Linked DNA regions of Homo sapiens: regions 1 and 2 are each linked to region 3. Evidence: fine-mapped expression QTL. A gene starts in region 3. Each other region holds a variant in brackets. All regions are shown on one strand. Distances are between the middles of the regions.

Evidence for each region.
Region 1: its variant is fine-mapped to the expression of CRACR2B in whole blood (INTERVAL, PIP 0.92).
Region 2: its variant is fine-mapped to the expression of CRACR2B in whole blood (INTERVAL, PIP 0.93).

The regions. Positions count from the first base shown.
Region 1 is chr11:866,236-874,488 of GRCh38, forward strand. It overlaps TSPAN4 (tetraspanin 4), which reads left to right. Exons shown (of 9, transcript NM_003271.5): 9 at 327-876. The coding sequence ends at 395. It overlaps CHID1 (chitinase domain containing 1), which reads right to left. Exons shown (of 13, transcript NM_023947.4): 11 at 4,184-4,264; 12 at 3,886-3,928; 13 at 1,624-3,721. The coding sequence ends at 3,623. Among named protein-coding and RNA genes, the nearest start is that of TSPAN4, 28 kb to the left of the region's middle. RefSeq lists enhancers at 1-161, 4,372-5,134. The variant A/T (reference allele first, on the strand shown) is at 3,298.
Region 2 is chr11:423,812-432,064 of GRCh38, forward strand. It overlaps ANO9 (anoctamin 9), which reads right to left. Exons shown (of 23, transcript NM_001012302.3): 5 at 8,188-8,243; 6 at 8,037-8,095; 7 at 7,883-7,956; 8 at 6,458-6,592; 9 at 6,272-6,368; 10 at 5,947-6,007; 11 at 5,759-5,841; 12 at 4,911-5,015; 13 at 4,664-4,828; 14 at 4,547-4,583; 15 at 4,277-4,388. LOC105376506 (a long non-coding RNA gene) reads left to right here and starts at 8,013. Exons shown (of 5, transcript XR_007062542.1): 1 at 8,013-8,253. RefSeq lists an enhancer at 4,735-5,934. The variant T/C (reference allele first, on the strand shown) is at 5,064.
Region 3 is chr11:824,670-832,669 of GRCh38, forward strand. It overlaps CRACR2B (calcium release activated channel regulator 2B), which reads left to right and starts at 3,250. Exons shown (of 9, transcript NM_001286606.2): 1 at 3,250-4,103; 2 at 4,183-4,294; 3 at 4,691-4,871; 4 at 5,317-5,463; 5 at 5,581-5,668; 6 at 5,952-6,044; 7 at 6,197-6,363; 8 at 6,555-6,626; 9 at 6,866-7,317. The coding sequence starts at 3,939. The coding sequence ends at 7,040. PNPLA2 (patatin like domain 2, triacylglycerol lipase) reads left to right here. Exons shown (of 10, transcript NM_020376.4): 10 at 1-904. The coding sequence ends at 193. RefSeq lists silencers at 2,353-2,972, 3,213-3,302, 5,497-6,106, 7,959-8,000 and enhancers at 2,673-3,211, 3,752-4,289, 4,290-4,829, 4,830-5,367, 6,446-6,985 and 1 more.

The DNA.
Region 1 (8,253 bases), 42 kb after region 3:
TTGGTCGGTGGCCCAGGACTGGCCAGTGCACAGAGGGTGGCAGCTGGGGCCCTGGTGCCAGTGGCCCCTGGTTTCCAAACTCCACAGCCCTCAGGAAGTTCTGGGTGTCCTCATGCCTGCAAGGCTCAGGGGAGGGTGCTGTGGCTCGAGCCACAGGGGTTGGGTGGGGCGTGCAAGCCACCAGGAAGCTGAAGGGCTCTGCCACTGTGTCGCCCACCCTGGGGTCGGGGTCAGGGCCAGGGCACCTGCTGAGGACAGGGACTGCTCTGGGCTTGAGGCCTGAGCCTGTGGAGCTGCCATGCCCAGTCCTCCTCCCCTACCTACAGATCCTGGGCCTGACCTTCGCCATGACCATGTACTGCCAAGTGGTCAAGGCAGACACCTACTGCGCGTAGGCCGCCCACCGCCCGCTTCTCTGCCAAAAGGACGCCCACGGGGAGATGGCCGCACCCACAGCTGCCTTTCCCACCACCAGCCTCGGTGCTCTGCCCCATGCTGGGAGGAGGGAGGGAGGGACAGGTGCCTGGAGCCCCCGGAACCCTGTTTCTGGAAGGCCCTAGCTCAGGTGGCTTCAGGGCCTCCGGACCCCCCCTGGGAGGGGTGGCCACGTGCTGGCTGCGGAACCCAGGGCAGGGGTGGGAGGGGCCTCCAGCACTTTTTATATTTACGTATTCTCCAAAGCAGTGTTCACACGGGAGCCAGCCTGTGGCCCCCAGCCTCCTGGAAAACAGGTTGGCGCTGGAGGAGCCGGGTCTTGGCATCCTGGAGGTGGCCCCACTGGTCCTGGTGCTCCAGGCGGGGCCGTGGACCCCTCACCTACATTCCATAGTGGGCCCGTGGGGCTCCTGGTGCATCTTAATAAAGTGTGAGCAGCAACCTTGCGTCTATTGCTCGTCTGCCTTCCCTACCCTATCTTCCCTTCTGGCACCCAGGCCTGGGGCAGGGCAGCCTCTGGCATGAACGGTGCTTAGGCAGAGCCCTGGGGCTGTGGGGTCACCTGGTGCACAGGCTTGGGGGAGCTGCCTGCAGAGCAGTCTCCAGACCTCTGGTTTTAAGGAAATCATGACATTAGCTCTAAGAAGTGATGAGGCCGGGTGCAGTGACTCACACCTGTAATCCCTTCGGCTTTGGGAGGCCAAAGTGGGTGGATAACCTGAGGTCAGGAGTTTGAGACCAGCCTGGCCAACATGGTGAAACCCTGTCTCTACTAAAAATAAAAAATTAGCCGGGCGTGGTGGCGGGCGCCTGTAATTCCAGCTACTTGGGAGGCTGAGGCAGGAGAATCGCTTGATTCCAGGAGATGGAGGTTGCAACGAGCCGAGATCGCACCACTGCACTCTAGCCTGGATGACACAGGAAGAGTCCATCTCAAAAAAAAAAAAAAAAAAAGTAATAAAAAATAAAGTGCCAAGGCCCCTGGGGGGCCGTCCCTGAACTGCCAGCCTTTGCTAGGGGTGGCCTCCCTCTGCTTCACCCCCCCACCCCGGGGGCTCCTCCTGAGGCGGGCCTCCCTCCACATCGCCCCCTACCCTGGGGCCTGCTGTCGAGGCGGGGCTGTGCTTTTCCCCTATTTTGTTCCTAGAACTCTGCCCCTTTAAGTGAGCTGGCAGCACAAAGCACCTGTCACAGGGCATGAAAAAAAATGCATCAAGGTGCCTCAGGATTCTCACAGCCAGGGGTGAGGGTTGTGTGGGGACCCTGGCCACAGGGATGACGGTCAGTTCAGGTTGGGGCATCTGATCCCCAAACTGCACCCCACAATCTCATTTCCAGCTAATTCCTGCCCCACCCTCTGCCCATCCCCCCGGGAGACACAGCCCGCTCTAGACATCCCATCCTGTGTGGCATCCCCACCCCTGCCTCCACCCAATGCTGATCTGGCAATGCCTAGCTCCAGGCCCACACCACCCTCCCAGACCTGCGTGTCCCCCACCCTCACTCCAACAGAAGCCACAGGACCCCCGAGAACAACTTGAATGTTAGCGTCAGCACCTCTGGGGAGACAAGGTCAGTGCCCCAAAGCCAGTGGCAGCTTGTGTTTTTTTAGACAAGGTTTTTGGAGTGCAGTCGGTCACAGCTCACTGCAGCCTCAACCTCATCAAGCGATCCTCCCATCTCAGCCTCCTGAGTAGCCAGGAGTACAGGCACATGCCACCATGTCTTGCTAATTTTTCTATTTTTAGGGGGTAGAGACGGGGTTTCACCATGTTGCCCAGCGTTCCTCCCGCCACGGCTTTCCAAAGTACTGGGATTACAGGCATGAACCGCCGCACACACCACTTGTATCTCCTATGCCCGTGTCAAGCAGCAGCAGGGCGGTGGGAACGGCTGCACCTGCACTGTGGCAGCTCGCAGGCCTCCCTGACGTCCAGGCGGAGGCTTTCTCAAGTGTGGGTGCCTTGGGTCCGACCCAGGACCCCCTCCCCAGCTCCCGTCCTGTGGAGGAGACCCCACCATGCTTCCTCACCACCGGCTGGAGATGTCCTGACCCCCTGCCCACTGCGCCCTAACATTACTGACTCTAAACCAGAACCCAGTGCCCACCCTGTCCTCACCGTCCTCACCCCACGGCATTCTGAGTGAGGGACGCCCAGGCCCACCCACTCCCTGGACTCACTTCTGTCCCCCCGAGAGACCTTGCCCGGGACATGTACCCACCTATGCCCTCTACTGCCCACCTCAGCCCTGTGGGACCCAGTGGTGAGGAGGGGAGTCCTCACGGCCAGCCAAGGACAGGATGGTGACGAGGGGCAGGGGAACGAGGGCCACCAGGCCTTGGCTCATGATGCCTCCAAATTCCCCAGGGCCTCCCCAGAGCCTGGACACCGCTGCATGGCAGGGTGGGTGTAGCCTGCCAGCCACATGTCCTCTGCCCCACCCCTCGCTGGAAATGCCTGTCCCGATATGGCCCACGGGTCCTGCCGTTGCCCCTCACCATGCTCCCTGATGTGTCCAGGCTGGCCTGGGGGTCGTGCTACCTGAGGCGGCAGAGCTGAGCCAAGGTCCAGGACCAGTTTCAAGAGGGTGGGCCAGGCTCCTCTGAGCCCATTTCTAGGGCAGCCCCTGCACCCTTGCCGTGCTGGACTCGGTGGGGACGTCTGGGTGGCTCTCTGCAGGTGACACACGTGCTGTGGCTGGCCAGGTGGGTGGCAGGTATGTGGGGGTGGAGCTCTCAGCTCTATCACTGCCAGGCCCTGGGGTGATGCTGGGCAGAGCTGTCCCTGCGAGGGCCCTCGAATCCAGGAGTGGGCGAGTCCGGGATGGTTCCAGAGCTTCCAAACCCACATCCAGCCCAGG[A/T]TGTGAGAAGCAGCCCAGAAAGGCCTGAGCCAGGCTGTCCTGGTGGGGCAGGTACTGTGGGCCCCGCCTGCCCAGCTGACAGGAGGCAGCCAGCGGATGCCCGGGTGGGAGGGGCTCGAGCTCTCAGGGTGTCCCCCAGCTAGGACTCATCCAGGGCAGGGACCCCTCATGGGAGGATGGGGAGTCACATGGTGCCCAGGACCCCCGACTGAGGACTGCAGCAGACCCGTCACAGCAAACGGAGTGGAGGCCTGTATTTCACACCTGCTCACTCACTCCATGGCTTAGAAAAGAACACGTCCACCGCGGAGGCCGCAATGCCCACCTAGAGCAGGTCGTAGAAGTAGTCCAGGCCCTGGCCCAGCTCCCAGATAGAGACCCCAACGCCCAGCTCCCGGGCCAGCTCCAGCCGCACCTGCAGGGACTGGGCACAGATGGAGGTGTGAGCACCTGCTGGGGCCTGTCCCCCCAACACCCAGGGATGTCCTCCAGGCCGAGGGGCAGCACCGCCTGGACCCCAGGCCAGTGCCTGCTGTGCTGTCGCATGGCCCACCCCTCCCCCGGTCCCACGGCTGGCAGCACACGCACCTTCAGGGTTGGGTAGAAGACGACGTGCCTCCCACTGCGGCTCCTGCAAGACAAAGGGACTGTCAGCCCATCCGCTCTGCTGGTTCCAGGCCTCCTCCCCTCACAGCCAAGGTCCACGGCCTGTACTCCTCCCACCCACCAGGTGGCCACCTGCTGTCCAGCTGTGCTCCAGGGCCGGGAGCAGCAAGTGAGCTCGTGACCCTGAGACCCCCTGGGCCCTGCTGCTCCCTCATCTCCACCCCCAGGGCCCCTCCCTGCACACAAGGCCAAGGTGGGCCACGCACTTCAAAACACTCACTTCTTGTACTCGAAGAAGTGCTCTGAGGCCTGGCTGTCCCACACCATCCGGGGCCTGTGGTCCTTCAGTGTCTGGATGTACCTGGGGAGACCAGGATATGGATTTGGGAGCCCACCCAGCTCCCCCACAGCCCCACCCTGTACCCCCAAAGGCTGTGGCTCTCAGCAGGGGCAGGGCCACTCGGGGCAGCCACTGTCCCCAGTGGTCTGGGGGACAACACCTGGTGGGGTGGCCAGAGCCCCAGGCCGTGTGAACCCTGTATTAGAGGAAACCTCAGGAAAAACATCTTCCAGGAGCTTCCTCGGAAGAAGCCACCCCACCAAGTCCTTTCAGTGGCCTGGAGAGTGACACGGGGCCTGAAACTGCCTGAGCCTGAGGGTGACCCTCAGGCCGCGCAGCGGCTGCTGGACAGGGCTCCTCACTCTGTCCAGACCCCAGGTGAGAGGCTAACCAGACAGGCCTCAGGCTGCCCTGGCCCCGCTGCTGGCCCTGGACTGATGGGCAGTGCCTCGTACTGGGTGGGCAGTGCCTTGTACTGGGGATGGCTGCCCGGGGCAGTGGTTTCTGCACCTTTTTTTTTTTTTTTTTTTGAGACGGAGTCTCACTCTGTCGCCCAGGCTGGTGTACAGTCGTGCGATCTTGGTTCACTGCAACCTCTGCCTCCCAGATTCAGGTGATTCTTCTGCCTCAGCCTCCTGAGTAGCTGGGACTACAAGCACACATCACCATGCCCGACTAATTTTTGTTATTTTTTAGTAGAGATGCGGTTTCACCGTATTGGCCAAGCTGGTCTCGAACTCCTGACCTCGTGATCTGTCCGCCTTGGCCTCCCAAAGTGCTGGAATTACAGGCGTGAGCCACCGCGCCTGGCCTCTGCACCCTTTCAAAGACTGAGTCTGCCTCAGTCTTGAACAATGACCACCCCATGCCCAGGACAGCAGCAGGCCCCTCCTGAGCACCAAGAGTCAGTGGTTTGAGAACCACCCCCTCCTTCACACAGAGGACAGGCTCATTCCCAAGGTGCTGGGGACACGACTGCGGCTTCCAGGTCACGGGGCCCTGAGTGTGTGCACATCTCACACTGCACATTTGGGACCAGGGCAGGTGGTTCCAGAAGCTTCTGGTCTCCACAGACAGGAGTCTGTGCAGGTGGAGGCAGCTGACAATGGAACATGACCAGTGCCTGCTGCGTGAGGACAGTGCCCCCCACGTGCCTGGGGCTGCAGCCTCAGGGAGGAGGCCTGGCGTGGGGCCTACAGCCCGGGTGCCATGTGGGAGGGGAGGACAGGCAGTAGGCAACTGCAGGGGCGCAGGGACCTGGGCCGTGTGGCATGGACATCCGCAGGATCCTAAGGGGTCACAGATGGACAGTGCAGGGTTTATCCAAGTGAGAAATGGCCACAGGACCGCACCTCGAGCCACCTTTCTGCTCCTGCCCAGGAGTAGTGGGATGTTTGAGGCTCCCAAACGGGAAAGGCTGCTGTTGTCCTGAGCAGGGCAGAGTCCCCTTGACACTGGGAGCCTCTTCCAGACTAGGGCACATGTCACTTCAGAGCTGTGAATGGGAGCAGCTGCCACCCCCCCAGCAGTGCTCGACAAAGTGCCAGACCCCATCGGGTAGCTCTGGCCTTTTGGGGCATGGAGGCTGCTCTGCAGACATCAGACCCCGGCAAACACATGGCAGGGAGGGTGGGAAACAGCATTCGGGCAGCCTCCCCAACCCAGACAGTTTCCCTTAGACGCCTGTTTCTGTTTTTTTGAGACAAAGTCTCGCTGTCACTCAGGCTGGAGTGCAGTGGCATGATCTTGGCTCACTGTAACCTCCGCCTCCTGGGTTCAAGCAATTCTCCCACCTCTGCCTCCCAAGTAGCTAGGATCACAGCCACCCGCCACCACGCCCAGCTGGTTTTTGTATTTTTAGTAGAGATGGAGTTTCTCCATGTTAGTCATGCTGGTCTTGAACTCCTGACCTCAAGTGACTGCCTGCCTCGGCCTCCCAAAGTGTTAGGATTACAGGCGTGAGCCACCGCACCCAGTCCCTCTAGACTCTGGTAATGGGATGGCAGCAGTGGCTGGCAGCTCCAGCCATCCCAGGCCTGGAAAAGGACTGCTGGACCCCTGCCCTCCTGTGGCTGGGCCAGGCCCCTCAATGGCCACATGCAAACATGGTCCTTCCAGAAGCCCCTCCAGACCAGGCAACGTCATGGAGGCTGCCAGCATAGCCACAACCCCATCAGACAGCTCTAAAATTACTGCATTATCCTTAACTGAAACACCACTCAAGGTGTTGTTGGTGTAATTTGCAGCGTCCCCCCTCAATATCTGCTGGGTGGCTCTGTGAGAAGAATGGGATGTGCAGGGTCGTGGGCAGATACCTCAGGGCAGGGTTGGCCCTCGGGCTGTGGGGAGCTCTGGCCACGCCACACACTCCTCCTCCTGGGGGGCCTCTGTGGTCACTGCTCAAAATCTGCTGCCTCCAGGAGGAGGTGAGGCTGGGGGTGGCCAGGACCCCTGAGAGCACTGGGTGCCTCCCACTCAGGAGCCCCAGCCTGGTGGTTTGGCGAGTGGGTGGTGACCACGCTGTGGGGGCAGCCATGACCAGGGCGCTGTCAGGGACCCCAACCCCAGGAATCGCTACTCCCAAGCAGGCCCTGGGGACGAGGAGAAGCTGGAGCCCAGGTGCTGGGTGGGGGTGTGTGCCCAGCTCCCAAAAGCCCAGGGAGGGTCTGAGAGTCACTCCTGGGGAGGGAAGGTGGGGCCACCCGGTATAGGGGCGGGGCTGAGTGAGGACGGGCAGCTGCAGGCACAGCAGAGGGAGTCCAGGCCCACAGCAGAGGGAGGACAGTCCTCAGAGGGCCGCAGACACACACAGGGGCTGGGTCCTTGGGGGGCCTGAGTGGCCATCCAGGCTGGTAACTGGGACCCCCTTGAGGGCTTGTAAGACCCCAAGGAGCATGGCTGGTGTGATGGACAAGCACACCAGGGGACCAGGCTCCCAGGAGGAACAAGGGCCACACAGGTCTTTTGGGCGCAGGCACCAGCCACAGTGAGTGGGGAGCGAGCGAGGGGCCTGCCTGGGAGGAAGGAAGGGCCACAGAGAGGGCAGGGGAAGGTGAAAGTCCGAGAGTGGGTGCAGGGAGCACTGCAGGAGCCCAAGGGAGGGACAAGCACATGGACGGGGAGGATGTAAGGAATAAGGACTCAATGAACACGGACAGCTCGGCCTCACAGAAACATCCAGAACAGACAAACCTACAGAGACGGTGGGCTGGAGGTGGGCACAAGCTAGGGCGGAGAAAGAGGGCACAGCTGCTAAAAGGCACAGGGCTTCTTTTTTTGGGGAGCAGTAATGCGGGCTGTACAATTCTGGAAGCGTGTTAAACGCCACTTTGAAATGGTGCATTTTATGGTATGTGAATTTCATCCAACCTCAAAAACAGCTGCAAGGCCTCAAATGGAAAGGGCCAAGGAAAGCCAAACAGGATATACACACAAAACACACCGAGACGCGCCACAGAGCAATTTAGGAGGACCAGGGACAGAGGTTCGACGCGTTTCTAGGGAGAAAGCAGATCAAGTGTGAGAAAGATGTCCTTGGACCTCCTGATGTGTGTGTGTGTGGGGGGCGTCACCCCACGGAGACCAGCTTGGAAACTTTTGGAGAAAGGGCTGCAGAAAACCAAAATAAGTGGGATGAGAGGCTTGCTCCAAAGCCTGGGGACTTTGCCAAGGTCTAAAACGCAAGGATTAAAAACAGAGGGGGCCGGGCGTGGTGGCTCACGCCTGTAATCCCAGCACTTTGGGAGGCTGAGGCGGGCGGATCACCTGAGGTCAGGAGTTCGAGACCAGCCTGGCCAACGTGGTGAAACCCCATCTCTACTAAAAATACAAAAAATTAGCCAGGCATGGTGGCACACACCTGTAGTCCCAGCTACTTGGGAGGCTGAGGCAGGAGAATCACTTGAACCTGGGAGGTGGAGGCTACAGTGAGCTGAAATCAAGCCACTGCACTCCAGACTGGGCGACAAGAGTGAAACTCCATCTCCAAAACAAAAAGATAGGGTCTTGTT
Region 2 (8,253 bases), 400 kb before region 3:
TGAGCCACTGCACTCAGCCAAATGTTTAATATTTTGAAATCATAAACATCTAAAGGAAATCACAGTTGAATACTCACACACACACACACACACACACACACACACACACACATTTGAGATGGAGCCTCACTCTGTCACCCAGGCTGGAGCGCAATGGTGCGATTTCAGTTCACTGCAACCTCTGCCTCCTGGGTTCAAGTGATTCTTGTGCCTCAGCCTCCCGAGTAGCTGGGACTACAGGCTCACACCACCACGCCTGGCTAGTAGAGACGGGGTTTCTTCATGTTGGCCAGTCTGGTCTTGAACTCCTGACCTCAGGTGATCTGCCTGCCTCAGCCTCCCAAAGTGCTGGGATTTCAGGCATAAGCCACTGCACCTGGCCCACAGTTGAACATATTTATTAATCTTGAGGAGTGGCATGAAAAAATAGAACCATAAAGGAATACTGTCAAAAAGAAAATTTGCTCTAGTGTAACATGAGAAACCAGGTAGATTTTTCACGCTGTTTTCCGAGAGACCTCCCCATGCAAAGAGGCACAGAACTAAGCTCTAGAGCCAGACTTTGTGGTTTTTATCTGTTCCGCCACCCACTGGCTGTGTGTCCTGGAGATAATTTCTTAACCTCTCTGGTCCTCAGTCATCTATTCTGTAAAATGGCAATGAGAGAAGCTCTGCCCTATAGGGCTACTGTGCAGATTAAATGAGTTAATGATAGAATGTGTGAGTGGGCAATGGATGTAGCTACTATTATACAGACCCATCTCATCCATCAAGAAAAATCAATTCAGTTCCTTGGTCTTTAATACGAATGAATAACCACAGAGATTTACTCACAGAGGAGTAAGAGGAGAATAACGATTAAAAAACAAAAATGGACCCTTTAGGAAACAAGAGATAATTAGGGAACAGATGAGAACTCAGGGAGAAGGAAAACCTAATTGAAATCCTCAAGAACATAAAAACACGGAAGGGATGCTGTGAATAAAAAATAAAGAGGAAACAAAACACTCTTAGAAATTAAGACTTTAATTGTTAAACGTAAAACAAAGAAATCAATCGATGGAGAAAAAGGCACAAAGTGAAGGAAATCTCTCCAGATGTTACAAGGAGGAGACATGGACACGGGACGCGCGGGAGGAAAAGGCGGCGCGGAGACGGGACGCGCGGGAGGAAAAGGCGGCGGGGAGACGGGACGCGCGGGAGGAAAAGGCGGCGTGGAGAGACGGGACGCGCGGGAGGAAAAGGCGGCGTGGAGAGACGGGACGCGCGGGAGGAAAAGGCGGCGTGGAGAGACGGGACGCGCGGGAGGAAAAGGCGGCGTGGAGAGACGGGACGCGCGGGAGGAAAAGGCGGCGTGGAGAGACGGGACGCGCGGGAGGAAAAGGCGGCGTGGAGCGACGGGACGCGCGGGAGGAAAAGGCGGCGTGGAGAGACGGGACGCGCGGGAGCAAAAGGCGGCGTGGAGAGACGGGACGCGCGGGAGGAAAAGGCTCCCAAGGAAGATCTCTGGAAGAAAAGGGACTCCGTGCAATACACGATGTACCACAGAGAGGCTGGATACAATTGATAAAGACATTCAAGAAAAAGAGGCAAGTAGAAACCCCAGGAGATGGATTGGAAGGCAGACAAAATCAAAAACAACAAAAGATAAAGAAACTCCAGGAAAAACAAAGAGCTGTACAATAAATGTTACAAATATGATGCAAAGTAAAACATACCATGATTATAAGAAACTGACAGTTAAAAAAAAAAAAAAGCAAGCAAGAAAGAAGCCTGGCCTTCATGCTACGATAACCTAACAAAAATGCTCCGATAATATGAACAGTCAATTCATAGGAAAAAAAATACAATGATCAGTAAATATCTGGAAAGATGCTAGACTTCACCAATAGTTTTTTGTTTTTTGTTTTTTGTTTGTTTGTTTGTTTTGTTTTTTTTGAGACGGAGTCTCACTCTGTCGCCCAGGCTGGAGTGCAGTGGCGCGATCTCAGCTCACTGCAGGCTCTGCCTCCCGGGTTCACACCATTCTGCCTCAGCCTCCCCAGTAGCTGGGACTACAGGTGCCCGCCACCACGCCCGGCTAATTTTTTGTATTTTTTTTTAGTAGAGATGGGGTTTCACCGTGTTAGCCAGGATACTCTCAATCTCTTGACCTCATGATCCTCGTGCCTCGGCCTCCCAAAGTGCTGAGATGACAGGCGTGAGCCACCTCGCCCAGCCCCTCACCAGTAGTTTTTTAAAGGCACTTTTAAAAAATGAAAAGACTTTGCCCATCAGCTCAAGATGGAACATATAGTTTCACACACTGTGGGTAGCTTTGTCACTGACACAGCCTTTCTGGAGGTCTCTTTAGCAGGATCTATGTTAATGTAAATGCAAACTCCCAAGTCACAATTAAAATGGCGACTGCAGGTGCAGTGGGTCACACCTGTCATCCCAGCACGTGGGGACACCAAGGCAGGAGGATTGCTTGAGACTGCAGGTGCGGTAGCTCACACCTGTTATCCCGTAGCACGTTGGGAGGCCGAGGCAGGAGGATTGCTTGAGCCCAGGAGTTCGAGACAAGCCTGGGCAACATGGCAAAACCCCATCTCTACAAAAAATAGAAAAAATTAGCCAGGCATGGTGGCACATGCCTGTAGTCCCAGCTATTCGGGAGGCTGAGGCAGGAGGATTGCTGGAACCAGGAGTTTGAGGCTGTAGTGAGCTGTAATGGTACCACTGTACTCCAGCCTGGGGCAATGGATCAAGATACTGTCTCTAAAAGTAAATAAATAAAAATAAAATGACAGGCTGCTGACACCCACTACCAGGCATCACCTTAGAGGTGTAAGGGAATTGGAGAGGCCTGAAGTCCACTCAAGACATCAGGCTTTCGGGGGAGACACTCAGGAAGCAACCCAGCCCTGCCAGGATCCCCAGGAAGCCTCGGGACTTGGGTACCCCTGGTGGCTTGGGGGCACTGATTAGGGGAATGCAGGCCCAGCTGGAAGGTCCCTGGGCTTCCTACCTGACCACAAAACCCCCTCAGGAGGACTAGAAGCTCACTAGGGGTTTGAACAACCAGGGACTCAGCACACAGGGTTGGACCAATTGACACTGAGGCCCCACACTGTCCTCCCCAACCCCAGCTGGCCTCCCAGCACATAGACAGCGTCCTTCTGCCTCCAGACAGGAGACCAGGGTTCACCCGCAGGAGCTTCCAGAGTGAGAGGTCCCACCAGGAGAGACGTGGCCCACAGCAAGCCATGGTGCACGCCTTTCCCAAGACGGATGGGGGTCAAGAACCAGCATCTACAGGGCCAGACGTGGTGGCTCACCTGAGGTCAGGAGCTCGAGACCAGCCTGGCCAACATGGTGAAACCCTTTCTCTACAAAAAATACAAAAATTAGCTGGGTGTGGTGGTGCGCACCTGTGGTCCCAGCCACTCAGGAGGCTGAGGCAGGAGAATTGCTTGAACCCAGGAAGCAGAGGTTGTAGCGAGCCAAGATCATGCTACTGCACTCCAGCCTGGGCGACAGAGCGAGACTCCATCTCAAAAAAAAAGTAAAGCTGCAGCCAGCATCCCTCTCACCTCGCCTTCCTAATTAGTGAAATGAGTCTTTCTGGCTCCATCAATCCATATGCACCTTTTTTTGGCCAGGTGCAGTGGCTCACGCCTGAAATCCTAACACTTTGGGAAACTGAGGCAGGAGGATCGCTCGAGCCCAGGAATTCGAAACCAGCCTGGGTAACACGGTGAGACCCCATTTCTACAAAAAATATTAAAATTAGCTGGGTGTGGTGGTGCACGCCTGTAATCCCAGCTACTCAGGAGACCCAGGAGGTCAAGACTGCAGTGAGCCAACATTGTGCCACTGGACACCAGCCTGGCGACAGCAAGACCCTGTCTCTGTCTCTCTCTCTCTCTCTCTCATATATACATGTATACGAGGATGTGTGGGCAGGCAGACCCAGGAAGACACCAAGTGCATTTTCAGCATAAAGAGCAGGTGCAGTTATTCCCAGGACAAAGCCATTTCTGCCAGTGCTGTTATGCGCCTGCAAATGCATGAAAAAGCCTGGGAGGCCACCAGACTGTCTTGATGCTACCTCGGGGCCCGGGATTCAGGAGCTGGGCTCACTGCAGGCTTTGCTCACATGTCTCTAGATTGGATTTCCACTTGCTCTCAGCAGAAATTACTTTTAAAATTAAAAGAATGGACATTGCCACTTTAAAGGCAGTGGAACAAGCCCTCGTGAGTTGGGTTGGAGGGAGCCTGGCGCCGGCCCTACCTGCCCAGGATGAAGGCGATGTAGATGAGAGACGAGAAATGGGTGAAGAACTGCAGTGTGAAGAAGCGGATGGTGAACCTGCTCTCTCGCTCCGAGAAGGTCCTGGGCATCTCTGGAATGGGACCGGCCCTCACCTCTCTCCCTGCTCATAGGAGAGGCCCTGGGGCAGCAGGAAGGGTCCCCTCCCCTGCTCTCTGACCACAGCCCCAAGGCCCCAGCCCTGAGTCCTCCCGCCGGGTCCCCCAAGAGGGTCTGGGGTAGTCCTCTCACCGAAGTCACAAAGCTTCAGGGCCACGCACCTGTTGATCTGCGGAGGAGGGCACCGAATGGGCTCACTGGGGCTCCGGTGGACCCCCCAGCTCGGGCCTGCCCTGCTCCCGGCCCCACCTTGGTCATGATGATGATGGTCACATAGTGCACCAGAGCCCCGGTCACCACCACGGCCGTGGTCACCTGCTCCTCCAGGAAGGGCACGGCCGAGCTGCTGAAGAGCGCGGAGGCCAGGACGCGGTAGACCACCAGGACGTGGGCCATGCCGATCATGAGGCAGATCTGCGGGACAGCTGTGGTGGGCGGGGGCCGGGGAGGGCATGCAGCCCGGGTCTCCAGCCCCACCGCGGTGTCCCCTGCGTACCATGAGCAGGGTCAGGACGAGGATGACGGTGCTGCGTAGGTAGGAGTGCTGGTATGGCCGGAGCTTGTAGTCGGGGCAGTTAATGAGCTGAAGTGCCATTTCCTCCTGGGGAGAGCACCGGGCAAGCCTCAGACAAGGGACACTCACCCCACA[T/C]GTGGGGAGACAGACACAGAGACACACCTCACGGGTGGACAGACACGGGACACTCACCCCACACATGGGGAGACAGACACGGGACACGCACCCCACACGTGGGGAGACAGACACAGGGACACGCCTCACGGGTGGACAGACACGGGACACTCACACCACACGTGGGGAGACAGACACAGGGACACGCCTCACGGGTGGACAGACACGGGACACTCATCCCACACGTGGGGAGACAGACACAGGGACATGCCTCATGGGTGGACAGACACGGGACACTCACCCCACACGTGGGGAGACAGACACAGGGACACGCCTCACGGGTGGACAGACACGGGACACTCACCCCACACGTGGGGAGACAGACACAGGGACACACCTCACGGGTGGACAGACACGGGACACTCACCCCACACATGGGGAGACAGACATGGGACACGCACCCCACACGTGGGGAGACAGACACAGCGACACGCCTCACGGGTGGACAGACACGGGACACTCACCCCACACGTGGGGAGACAGACACAGGGACACGCCTCACAGGTGGACAGACCAGGACACACGCCCCACATGTGGGGAGACAGACTCGGGACACACACCTCAGACACGGCAGGCATATGTGGGCCGTGCAGGGCATCGGGCGCCAACAGCCCCTGCTCGGGTCGGCCTCAGCTGCGCTGCCAGCTCCACCTCACCTGTTCCTCGTCCCACACGTACAGGTCCCAGTGCAGGACCACGCGGGCGCGCTGCCGCTTCCAGATCTCCAGGAACACCGTGGCTGCGGCGGGGGCAAGGAGGGGCATCACTGCACTACGCCAGGTGGACCTCGGAGCTTGGGCTGGCACTTCCCCTGGCCCCGCAGAGGCGTCCCGCAGCAACTCACCCCAGAGAGCCATGAAGATGGCGAACACCACCGTGCCATCATTGTCAAAGAGGTGGGTGAGCTGGGGGGGTGATAGGTGGGCCGGAGAGGAGGTGGGTGAGCTGGGGAGGGGGGCAGGTGAGCCAGGGAGGGAGGCAGGAAAGCCGGGGAAGGGGGCAGGTGGGCTGAGGAAATGGGCGGGTGGGCTGGGGCTGGGCCTCCCCGTCAGCCCTGTGGGGAAAGCTGAGCAGCTCTGCAGGGCTCCAGGCCTTGATCTCCCCCGCTTCGGGTGGATGCACCGTTCCCATCTTCCGCAGGCCCTGGGGTGGACCCGGAGGCGACAAACCTTGGCAAAAGTGCAGGTTTCCGAGAGCCGCTGGTACCTGCGGCTGTGGTCGCCGAGGGGACACATGAGGATGTCGTGGGCCTCACAGATCTCCTTGCTGAAGGGGCAGGGATGAGGCTGGGGTCGGCTCCTCCAGGCAGCAGGGCCCACCCCGGCCCCCCATGCCCGGCCCCTGCTGCGGCCCACCTGATCTGGCTGGCCTCAAACAGCGAGAATCCGCTCAGAAAGACTAAGAGGCCCGTCAGGGCGGCCGGCACCAGCATGTAGGTGTACCAGCCCAGCCAGACGAAGTACAGGGCCACCTTTTCCCCAAAGTAGTTCCTGCAGGCAGCAGGGGTCAAGGCCAGCTGTCAGGGGGCGGTGGGGGAGGGACAGGAAAGGGATGGGGGTGGGAGGGGGCAGCAGGGGAGGGATGGGGGAGGGACGGGGTGGGAAGGGGTGGCGGGGGAGGGACAGGAGAGGGACGGGGAGGGATGAGGGTGGGAGGGCAAGGCAGGGGAGGGATGGGGGAGGGAGGGGGCAGTGGGGGAGGGACAGGGTGGGAGGGGGGTGGGGGAGGGGGTCTCTCTTTTGGTGGCATCAGTGAGTCTGAATGGGAAGCACATCTGTGGGCGTGGGGGCATCTGTGAGGGTGTGGGCAGTGTGGGAGCATCTTCTGGGTGGTGTGTGGGGGCGTTTACAGGAGGTGGTGGCTTCTGGGTGGTGTGTGTGGATGTCTGGGGGGTGTGGGGGCGTCCGCGGGTATCTGGGGGCTTCCGCGGGGGTGTGGGGGCTCACGCGGGTATCTGGGGGCGTCTGCGGGGGTGTGGGGGCTCCCGCCGGTATCTGGGGGCGTCCGCGGGGGTGTGGGGGCTCCCGCCGGTATCTAGGGGCGTCCGCGGGGGTGTGGGGGCTCCCGCGGGTATCTGGGGGCGTCCGCGGGGGTGTGGGGGCTCCCGCGGGTATCTGGGGGCGTCTGCGGGGGTGTGGGGGCTCCCGCGGGTATCTGGGGGCTTCCGCGGGGGTGTGGGGGCTCCCGTGGGTATCTGGGGGCGTCTGCGGGGGTGTGGGGGCTCCCGCGGGTATCTGGGGGCTTCCGCGGGGGTGTGGGGGCGTCCGCGGGTATCTGGGGGCTTCCGCAGGGGTGTGGGGGCTCCCGTGGGTATCTGGGGGCGTCCGCGGGGGTGTGGGGGCTCCCGTGGGTATCTGGGGGCTTCCGCGGGGGTGTGGGGGCGTCCGCGGGTATCTGGGGGGCTTCTGCGGGGGTGTGGGGGCTCCCGCGGGTATCTGGGGGCGTCTGCGGGGGTGTGGGGGCTCCCGCGGGTATCTGGGGGCGTCTGCGGGGATGTGGGGGCGTCCGCGGGTATCTGGGGGCGTCTGCGGGGGTGTGGGGGCTCCCGCGGGTATCTGGGGGCGTCTGCAGGGGTGTGGGGGCTCCCGCGGGTATCTGGGGGCTTCCGCGGGGGTGTGGGGGCTCCCGTGGGTATCTGGGGGCGTCTGCGGGGGTGTGGGGGCTCCCGCGGGTATCTGGGGGCTTCCGCGGGGGTGTGGGGGCGTCCGCGGGTATCTGGGGGCGTCCGCAGGAGGCGGGGCCGTCCGCGGGGTTCCTGTGCTCTCTTTGGGCAGCGTTACCTGATTTCATCAACTGGCTGCTCCCGGAACATGTGTCTCCACCGCGCCCACGTCTTCTTCAGGCGTCCCTCCCCCTGGCTCGGGTGACAGAGAGTGAGAGCCCCCATCCCAGGGTCCCACCCCAGGGCCCTCTCCAGGCCAGCCCACCCCTCACCTTGTGCAGGGGGAACCTGGCCTCAAAGACCCCGTCCTTCATCAGATCCTCGAAGGTCTCTGGGTCACAGGGGTTCACGAGTCAGGGGGAGTGAGGTGCTGGGAGAACCCTGCCCGCAGCGCCCCTGTCAGTGCCCCACCCCTGCCCTTACCACCAGCCGAGGTCTTGTTGTTCATGACAACGAAGTTCACGATTCGGATTCTGAGACTCAAGAGCC
Region 3 (8,000 bases):
CCAGCTGCTGCTCGGCCTCTTCTGCACCAACGTGGCCTTCCCGCCCGAAGCTCTGCGCATGCGCGCACCCGCCGACCCGGCTCCCGCCCCCGCGGACCCAGCATCCCCGCAGCACCAGCTGGCCGGGCCTGCCCCCTTGCTGAGCACCCCTGCTCCCGAGGCCCGGCCCGTGATCGGGGCCCTGGGGCTGTGAGACCCCGACCCTCTCGAGGAACCCTGCCTGAGACGCCTCCATTACCACTGCGCAGTGAGATGAGGGGACTCACAGTTGCCAAGAGGGGTCTTTGCCGTGGGCCCCCTCGCCAGCCACTCACCAGCTGCATGCACTGAGAGGGGAGGTTTCCACACCCCTCCCCTGGGCCGCTGAGGCCCCGCGCACCTGTGCCTTAATCTTCCCTCCCCTGTGCTGCCCGAGCACCTCCCCCGCCCCTTTACTCCTGAGAACTTTGCAGCTGCCCTTCCCTCCCCGTTTTTCATGGCCTGCTGAAATATGTGTGTGAAGAATTATTTATTTTCGCCAAAGCACATGTAATAAATGCTGCAGCCCAGCCTCTGCCCACTTTGTGTGTATGTGACCGCCTGCTTACTTGCAGTGAGAGCCTGGTGGCCAGGGTCTGGCCCTACCTTGGCTGACCAGCCTCTCCACAGCTGCAGGCCAGGTCTCCCAGCGTCGCACTCCTGGGCCTGGCATTTGGAACCTGCCAGGCTGGCCTGGGAACACCCCCCTACAGGCACATATGAACGTACTGCATTCCTGCCGACCCCCCTGTCTAGGATGCATCCACACCCCCCCCAATTTTGCCCAGCAGCCTCCTGGCTGACCCTTGGCCACAGCCTTCTGAGGGCCAATGGAAATATTTGGGACCAAGATTCTTGGTAAATAAAAACGAAAATGTTTGCAAAAGGTGTCGCCTGCCCCTCCCCTCACACGGTGACACAGTGGGGTGTGTGACTGTTTTGGGGCTTGGCCAGCTGTGGGGGCTGAGGTTCCTGAAACCAAGCACAGGGGACCTGGGAAAGCTGGGCCCCTGCTCCACTTGGGCGTTTGGCCCAAAGTTCTCTGTCCCCCCACCCTCACAAGCCTCTCTGGCCTGGTGCACATACCTTCTTGTTCCCCTGCCCAGCCTCCTGCCAGTACACAGGGCAGGGCTGGGATATGGAGGCAGGTGAGGTCCTAGCTGAAGGGGACTCAGCCCTGTGCTGGGGAAGTGGTTTCCTGAGGGCATCCTCTTCATGGCAGGGAGGCCATGAGGGGAGAAGGCCAGCCCTCCTTGGCAACCAAAAAGGCCCCATGGCCTGAGGGTGCTGGAGCCAGCCCCCACCTGCTCCTCCCAGAAGGCGTGGGGTGGCTGTGGTGGCAGCCCCCTGCCAACAATAACGGTTGGTTCTGGGATCTGGGACTGGGCGAGCCGGCCAGGCAGGTCCCTGATGTGCCTGTGCCAGAGGCCACCCCCCTTGGTCTCAAGGTCCTGTCCTATAAGCCCAGCCTTTTGTGGTTCAGCTGGGTCGCACGCTGGATCCCAGGCCCCTTCCTTGAAAAGCAGAGGCCTTGTACCCCCCAGGGTTGCCGGGCGGGACAGTGATTCCAGCCCTTCAGGTGGGTGCAGGGGCCAGGCTGGGGCTGGGGCTGGGGAGGGCTCCTCGGTCTGGGGTGGAATTTTCTCCCCCCACAGGAGGGTTTCACTCGGGCCTCAAGCAGCTCCTCCTTCCAATCCTCCCCCAAGGGGAGCCCCAGTCAGGGCTGGGCCCCAGAAGGAGAGCCAGGAGGGGCTACTGAGGTGGGACCTGCCTGAGTCCCCAGCTCGTTCACCCATACATATACACTGAATACTGCTAAGTTAAACATTTTCTAGCATTACACGTTCATTGTTTTGTTTTGAGATGGAGTTTCGTTCTTGTTGCCCAGTGCAATGGCACAATCTCGGCTCACTGCAAACTCTGCCTCCCGAGTTCAAGTGATTCTCCTGGCTCAGCCTCCCAAAGTGCTGGGATTACAGGCGCCCACCACCACACCTGGCTAATTTTTTGTATTTTTAGTAGAGACGGGGTTTCGCCATGTTGGGCAGGCTGGTCTCGAACTCCTGACCTCAGGTGATCTGCCCCTGTCTCAGCCCCCCAAAGTGCTGGGATTACAGGCGCCCGGCCTACATGTTTATTGTTTAAAAACCGGGAAAGTATAGAGAAGAAAGTAAAGGCTCCCCACCCCTAGAGATAACCGCTGAAAGTATTTGGTCTGTTTCCTGCCCGGCTTTTTCCTACACACACTTTTTGGCGCCTTAAGTCGGGCTCCCCCCGGACAGGAGGGGCCCCTCCCAGGCGCTGGTGTCTGCGCCCGCCCCCCGCAGCCTTGTCCCTGCTCCGGGGGGTCCCTGGGTCTCTGGGGCATATCGTTGCTTCACTGCTCGCTCGAGCCTCCAGGGATCGGGCCGCCGGGGCAGCGCAGAGAGGCGGGGACAGGCGACAGCGGCGCAGAGTGGCTCCTCCCGGGGCCGGCCCAAGCGGGGGTCTCGGTGCCTGCGAAGCGGCAGGGGTCGCTCGGGGCCCAGTGCCCTCTACGTCCCGTCCGGGTCCCAGCTGGGGCGGGGCGCGCCCAGTGTTTCCGGGAGGAGCGGCCCGGGCGCGCGGCAGGTGCGGCGGCGCAACTCGCGGGTAGGCGACCGCTGGTCCCGCCGCTGAGGCCCCTCCACTGCCGCCCGCCCGGCACCCCCTCCGGGCCGCCGTGGCCCGCGCCAAACCTGAGCGTCTCGGTCGGGAACTCCGGTTACCCCCTCGGGGCGCAAGGCGGCAGGGGTAAGGGCGGGGTTGTCCCCCAGAGTTTCGGGGAGCACAGGAGGCTGGCCGCCCCACCCCACCAGCCCATCCTCCCACCTCCCTGGGGCCCTGCTGCCGCGCGGCTTCCGGCTGGGGTGGACCTCAGGTCTAGCCGGCAAGCCGGAGGGCGGGCGAGACAACAACGTGGCCTGGAGGCAATGGCCCTGGCCTCTCGTGTCCCCTTCTCTCACCCGCCCAGACTTGCCCTCTTTGGAGGTCGCCCGGGCTAAGGAACATGGAAGGACGCTGGGTGGAGAGTGAGGGGAGAGGATCCCAGCTCCCCGGTGGGGGAAGGCGGGTGTTGGTGGGGAGCAGCTTTGGGAAATCCGGGATCAGGACATTGTGTGAAGGACAGGTGGCTCTGGTTAGGGGGCGGGGCGTCCCTGCAAGGAGGTGGGAAGGGAGGCCCCAGGGAGTTCTGAAACGGGGAAGGGCCTCAGTGTTGTGGGGCAAGGGTGTTAGGTCTCGAATCTGGAAGTGTTCCTGAGTGGGGCGTCAGAGGCGAAGGGCTCTGCAGGCTGGGACCTTGCCCCTGCACTCTGTGGGCTCAGTTGTGGGGAGGGAGGGGCCGGTGGGCAGGAGGGAGAAGTCTGCCCTGCCTGCCAGCTGTCATGAGGCTGGGCCACACAGGCCCAGGCCAGGGGCTAAGGACTTGGTCAGGACTGGCTGAGCCCTCACTTGGGATCAGATCTCCAGTTGCAGAGTGTGAGGGGCTCCTCCCTCACTGACCCCAAGCCTGCTCCTCTCAGCTTTCAGGACCCCACCTTCCTTATCACCAGGTCTTCTCCACTGGCCCCTGAGATTGCCATCACCTCCAGCTCCTCCTCTCCTGAAGTTGGCAGCCCCTCCTGGGTTCCAGCCTCCTGAGATGCCAGACCCACTGGGGCAGTACCCACAGGCCCTGAGCCTACATCAACCACCCCAGTGACACCCCAAGCCTGCAGCATTTTCCACCCCCAGCCCCCTGGTCCCACCTTGCCTTCCGCCCACCTTCCCACCTGCTGCAGGGAGGGCCCTCGGCTGAGCCTTCAGACACACTTGCACCCCATCCGCTCCCCTCCTGAATTTCTTCTGACCCTCCCTTGGCTTCACAGCACCTGAAGGCCAGGCTGAGGCCCCCTGCTCTCATGGCCAGCCCTGGAAAGCCTGGGGCTGATGAGGCCCAGGAGGAGGAGGGGGAACTCGAGGGGGGCTCTGCAGGGCCGCGGGCTGCAATACTGGAGCAGGCTGAGGAGCTGTTTCTGCTGTGTGACAAGGAGGCTAAGGGCTTCATCACCAAGCACGACCTGCAGGTGAGTCCCCCACCCCAAGAGACTGCTTCGGCCCTGGGTTGACCGCAGCGGCTCATCTCTGCTCTCCTTCCCCGACCAGGGTCTCCAGAGCGACCTGCCCCTCACGCCAGAGCAGCTGGAGGCTGTGTTTGAAAGTCTGGACCGGGCTCACACTGGCTTCCTCACCGCCAGGGAGTTCTGCCTGGGCCTGGGTGAGCCTGTGGCCTGCCTATCCCCCACTGCCCAGAGCTGGAGGCCTGATCAGGAGGCCTGGCACTTGTGGCGCCCTGAGGGCTGCCGGTGCCTCTCGTCCTCCTCCCTCCAGGGCCCGTGCTTTGTCTGCACGCACTCGCGCCTGGGGGCTCCTAGCTGCGGTGGAGTGTGTGGAGCTGACCTTCCTGGCCCCCAGCTCCTCTCCTGTGCTAAGCTCCGGTAGGGCTGGGAGCTGGCCTGTCACCTCTTGTTTCCAGGCCAATAGGACCAGAATAAGGAAGGAAAACAGGAAACTGGGCCCTGAGAGAGGGCAGGATACTCGTTGGGAGGGTGAACGGGGACACAGCCACGGTGGCGACCCACAGCCCTGGTAATCGCTCGCTCCATGCCCGCAGGGATGTTTGTGGGGGTGGCGTCAGCCCAGGGAGCGAACCCCTGCAGGACTCCCGAGGAGACCTTTGAGTCGGGCGGGCTCGACGTGCAGGGCACGGCGGGCTCTCTGGATGAGGAGGAGGAAGAGGAGGAGCGATTCCACACTGTGCTGGAGCAGCTGGGGGTGGCCCCGGTCCTGGGCAAGTGAGTCGGCGCTGGCCCCGCTCCCACTGCCCGCTCTGCTGTTTCTCTGCCTGCATGCTGTCTGCCCTTGTCACCCGAGTGCTGGTTCTGCACAGGGTCTCTAGGCCGGGTCAGGCCCAGCCTAGCGTCAGCTGCGATTCCCTGGGAGGGACCCGGCATGATTTCCCGCAGAATTTGCATTTCATGAGGCAGCAGCCAGGGCTGCAGGGAGGAGGGGCAGCGCCGGGCGCGGGGCCACATACCGGCACTGCCCAGGGTACACACACCTCACCGACCACGCACGCCGGGCAGGGGCGAAAGCGCTCACGGGAGGGATGCCCTGCACGCAGCAAGTGCTCCTGTCCTGCCCAGGGGCGAAGAAGTCTCCTAAGGGTTTGCTGCTGGCGGAGGGAAGCCTGCTTCCCGCTTCTGCCAGCTCCAGCCTCAGTTCCCGCCCGCCCTCCAGGCAGCGGGCTGTGAGGACGCTCTGGGCCAGGCTGCAGCGCGAGCGCCCCGAGCTGCTGGGCTCTTTCGAGGATGTTCTGATACGCGCGTCGGCCTGCCTGGAGGAGGCGGCCCGGGAGCGCGACGGCCTGGAGCAGGCGCTGCGGAGGTGAGGGCCGGGGTGGGGTATGGGGGCCAATGGAGGGCCTCAGGGCAGCAGCAGAGGCGGTGCCAGGGGGCTGTAGCGCTGGCAAGTTCTCATCCGGGGTCGCCCGGTCCCCCGAAGGCGCGAGAGCGAGCACGAGAGGGAGGTGCGCGCTCTGTACGAGGAGACGGAGCAGCTTCGGGAGCAGAGCCGGCGCCCGCCGAGTCAGGTGGGCCTCGGGCCCCGCCCCTCCCGCCAGGCCCAATCCCACCTCGCTGGCCTCCCTGGCTCCGCCTTCTCTGAATTAATCCCTCCCCGACGGCCCCACCTCCGCGGGTCCAGGCTGCCCTCAGCCCGAGGAGATCCCACTGGGCCTCACGTATCACCCCCGTCCGGTCTTCTCCACCCGACCCCGCTCCGCCCGGGCCCACTCCCAGCCCCTGGCCCTCCGTGTACCTCTTTTGCATGGCCGAGCGGCCGGCGGAGGCTCAGTGGTCCTCCGTGCGTCCCAGAACTTCGCCCGCGGGGAGCGGAGAAGCCGTCTGGAGCTGGAGCTGCAGAGCCGCGAGCAGGACCTGGAACGCGCGGGCCTGCGGCAGCGGGAGGTGAGCACCCGGCCCCTGCCCTGTCCCCACGGTCACCCGTGCACTCTCCCCCTGTGCCTTAGCGTCCCCGGGTTGTCGGGAGCCTGGGGCACGCGCAGCACCCCGGGGAAGAGGGGGCGTTCCTCGCCGGTCTCCATCCTTCCACCCTCCAGTTAGAGCAGCAGCTGCACGCCCAGGCTGCGGAGCACCTGGAGGCACAGGCCCAGAACTCCCAGCTGTGGCGGGCGCACGAGGCGCTGCGAACGCAGCTGGAGGGGGCGCAGGAGCAGATCCGCAGGCTGGAGAGCGAAGCACGAGGCCGCCAGGAGCAAACCCAACGGTGCCGTGGGACGGGGCTGGGCGGGCCCCGGTGCGTGTCCCGGGGGCGGGGCCGACGGGCGCTCAGGTCTGGGCCACTTTCATCCCCATCTCAAGTCCCAGGCCCGCCCCGTGGGAAGGAGGATCTTCTAGGGGGTCCGGGGGCTCCCCAAGGAGCCTTCCTGCAGCCGGGTCACCACCTCCCATCCACAGAGACGTGGTCGCCGTCTCCAGGAACATGCAGAAAGAGAAAGTCAGCCTGCTACGGCAACTGGAGCTGCTCAGGTACGGTCAGGCTCAGGCCCGAGAGGGAATGGGCTCAGCGGAGCTTGGGGGCTCCCAGCTCCCCAACATTCTTGGCTGCCGCTCTACTCCATTGGAAGTCCTTCCTTATGCCTGCCTTTCACCCCTCACGCTGCAGCCTCAGCCAGACACCTCTCTTCGCTCTGAGGGGAGTCGGAGCTCACCTCCCCCCACCTTGAGCTCCCTCAGACCCTCTCAGTGTCGGACTCCTCCTTCCCTAGGGAGCTGAATACACGGCTGCGGGATGACAGGGACGCCTGCGAGGCCAGGCGGGCGGGCAGCAGCTGCAGGAAGGCTCTGACAACAGCCCGCCTGCCTGGGCCCACCTGCTGCTGCTGCTGTTGCTGGGCTCGGCCCCCCAGACGCGGCTCTGGCCACCTTCCCAGTGCCCGGTGACCAGCCCCGAGTGACTCACGGACCATGAGCTAGAAGCTGCCCTTGCAGGAGGCTTGTCATGGGTCGGGGGTGCCCACTCAGGATGCAGGCTCTCCCCAGTGGGCCCCAGGCTCGCCTGACTGAAGACATGAAGGACCTAGCCTAGGAGTGGTCAGGGTCCCGGGAGTGGCCAGGGTCCCGTGTGTGCCCTCTGCCAGTCTTCGCTCTGTCCCCGTTCAATCAACCCCATCTCAGTTCAGCAGAAAACCCCCTCGTCAAATAAAACCCACTGACTGCACTGCGTCCTCCTGGGCCTTCCGTGTGTCTGGGAGCCACAGCCTGTGTGTGCCACATGGATGAGGTGGGCACCTGTGCACGCGTGCTGTGTGGGTGAATACAGGGAGCGCGGGCCTGTGGCGATGGGGCTGAGGTCCTGCGTGTCCTCTTGTGTCCCTGGTCATGCCCCAAACTCACACTACCCATCAAGGCTGGAGCCCCTCGGGGCCCTCGCCAGTGTGTGGATCAGGGCTCCCCACTGTCTCGCCAGGGAGGCCGGGCAGGTTCCCGGCCTCAGTCGGCCACCCCCTCCCATGCTGGTCCTCCCCTGTGGCTGTGATGAATGAGCTTGGTGGGTGGGCAGCCCCCTCCTTCCTCACTCCCACTCTTGGCGTCTTGGTGCAGCCCTAGGCCGGCCCTGCCCTTCGTCCCTCACCTCCTCGCACCGCTCCCAGTGGTCCCTTCCAGTCTGGAGGGCATGGGCCCCCCAGGACCCCATGGGTATGTCTCGCTGGGACCCCAGGCCTGCCCGGGTCTCCAGGCTGTCCACACTGCACGTACAGTAGCCCTTCTCCCGCATTTGCCCACAGCGCTAGGCCCTCCCACGCCCCAGGCCGGCATCGGTTCTGCCGACCCCTGCAGCCTCTGGGCGGTTCCTGGGTGAGGAGAAAGAGATGGGGGTTGGGCATGGAGGAGGGCCGGGTC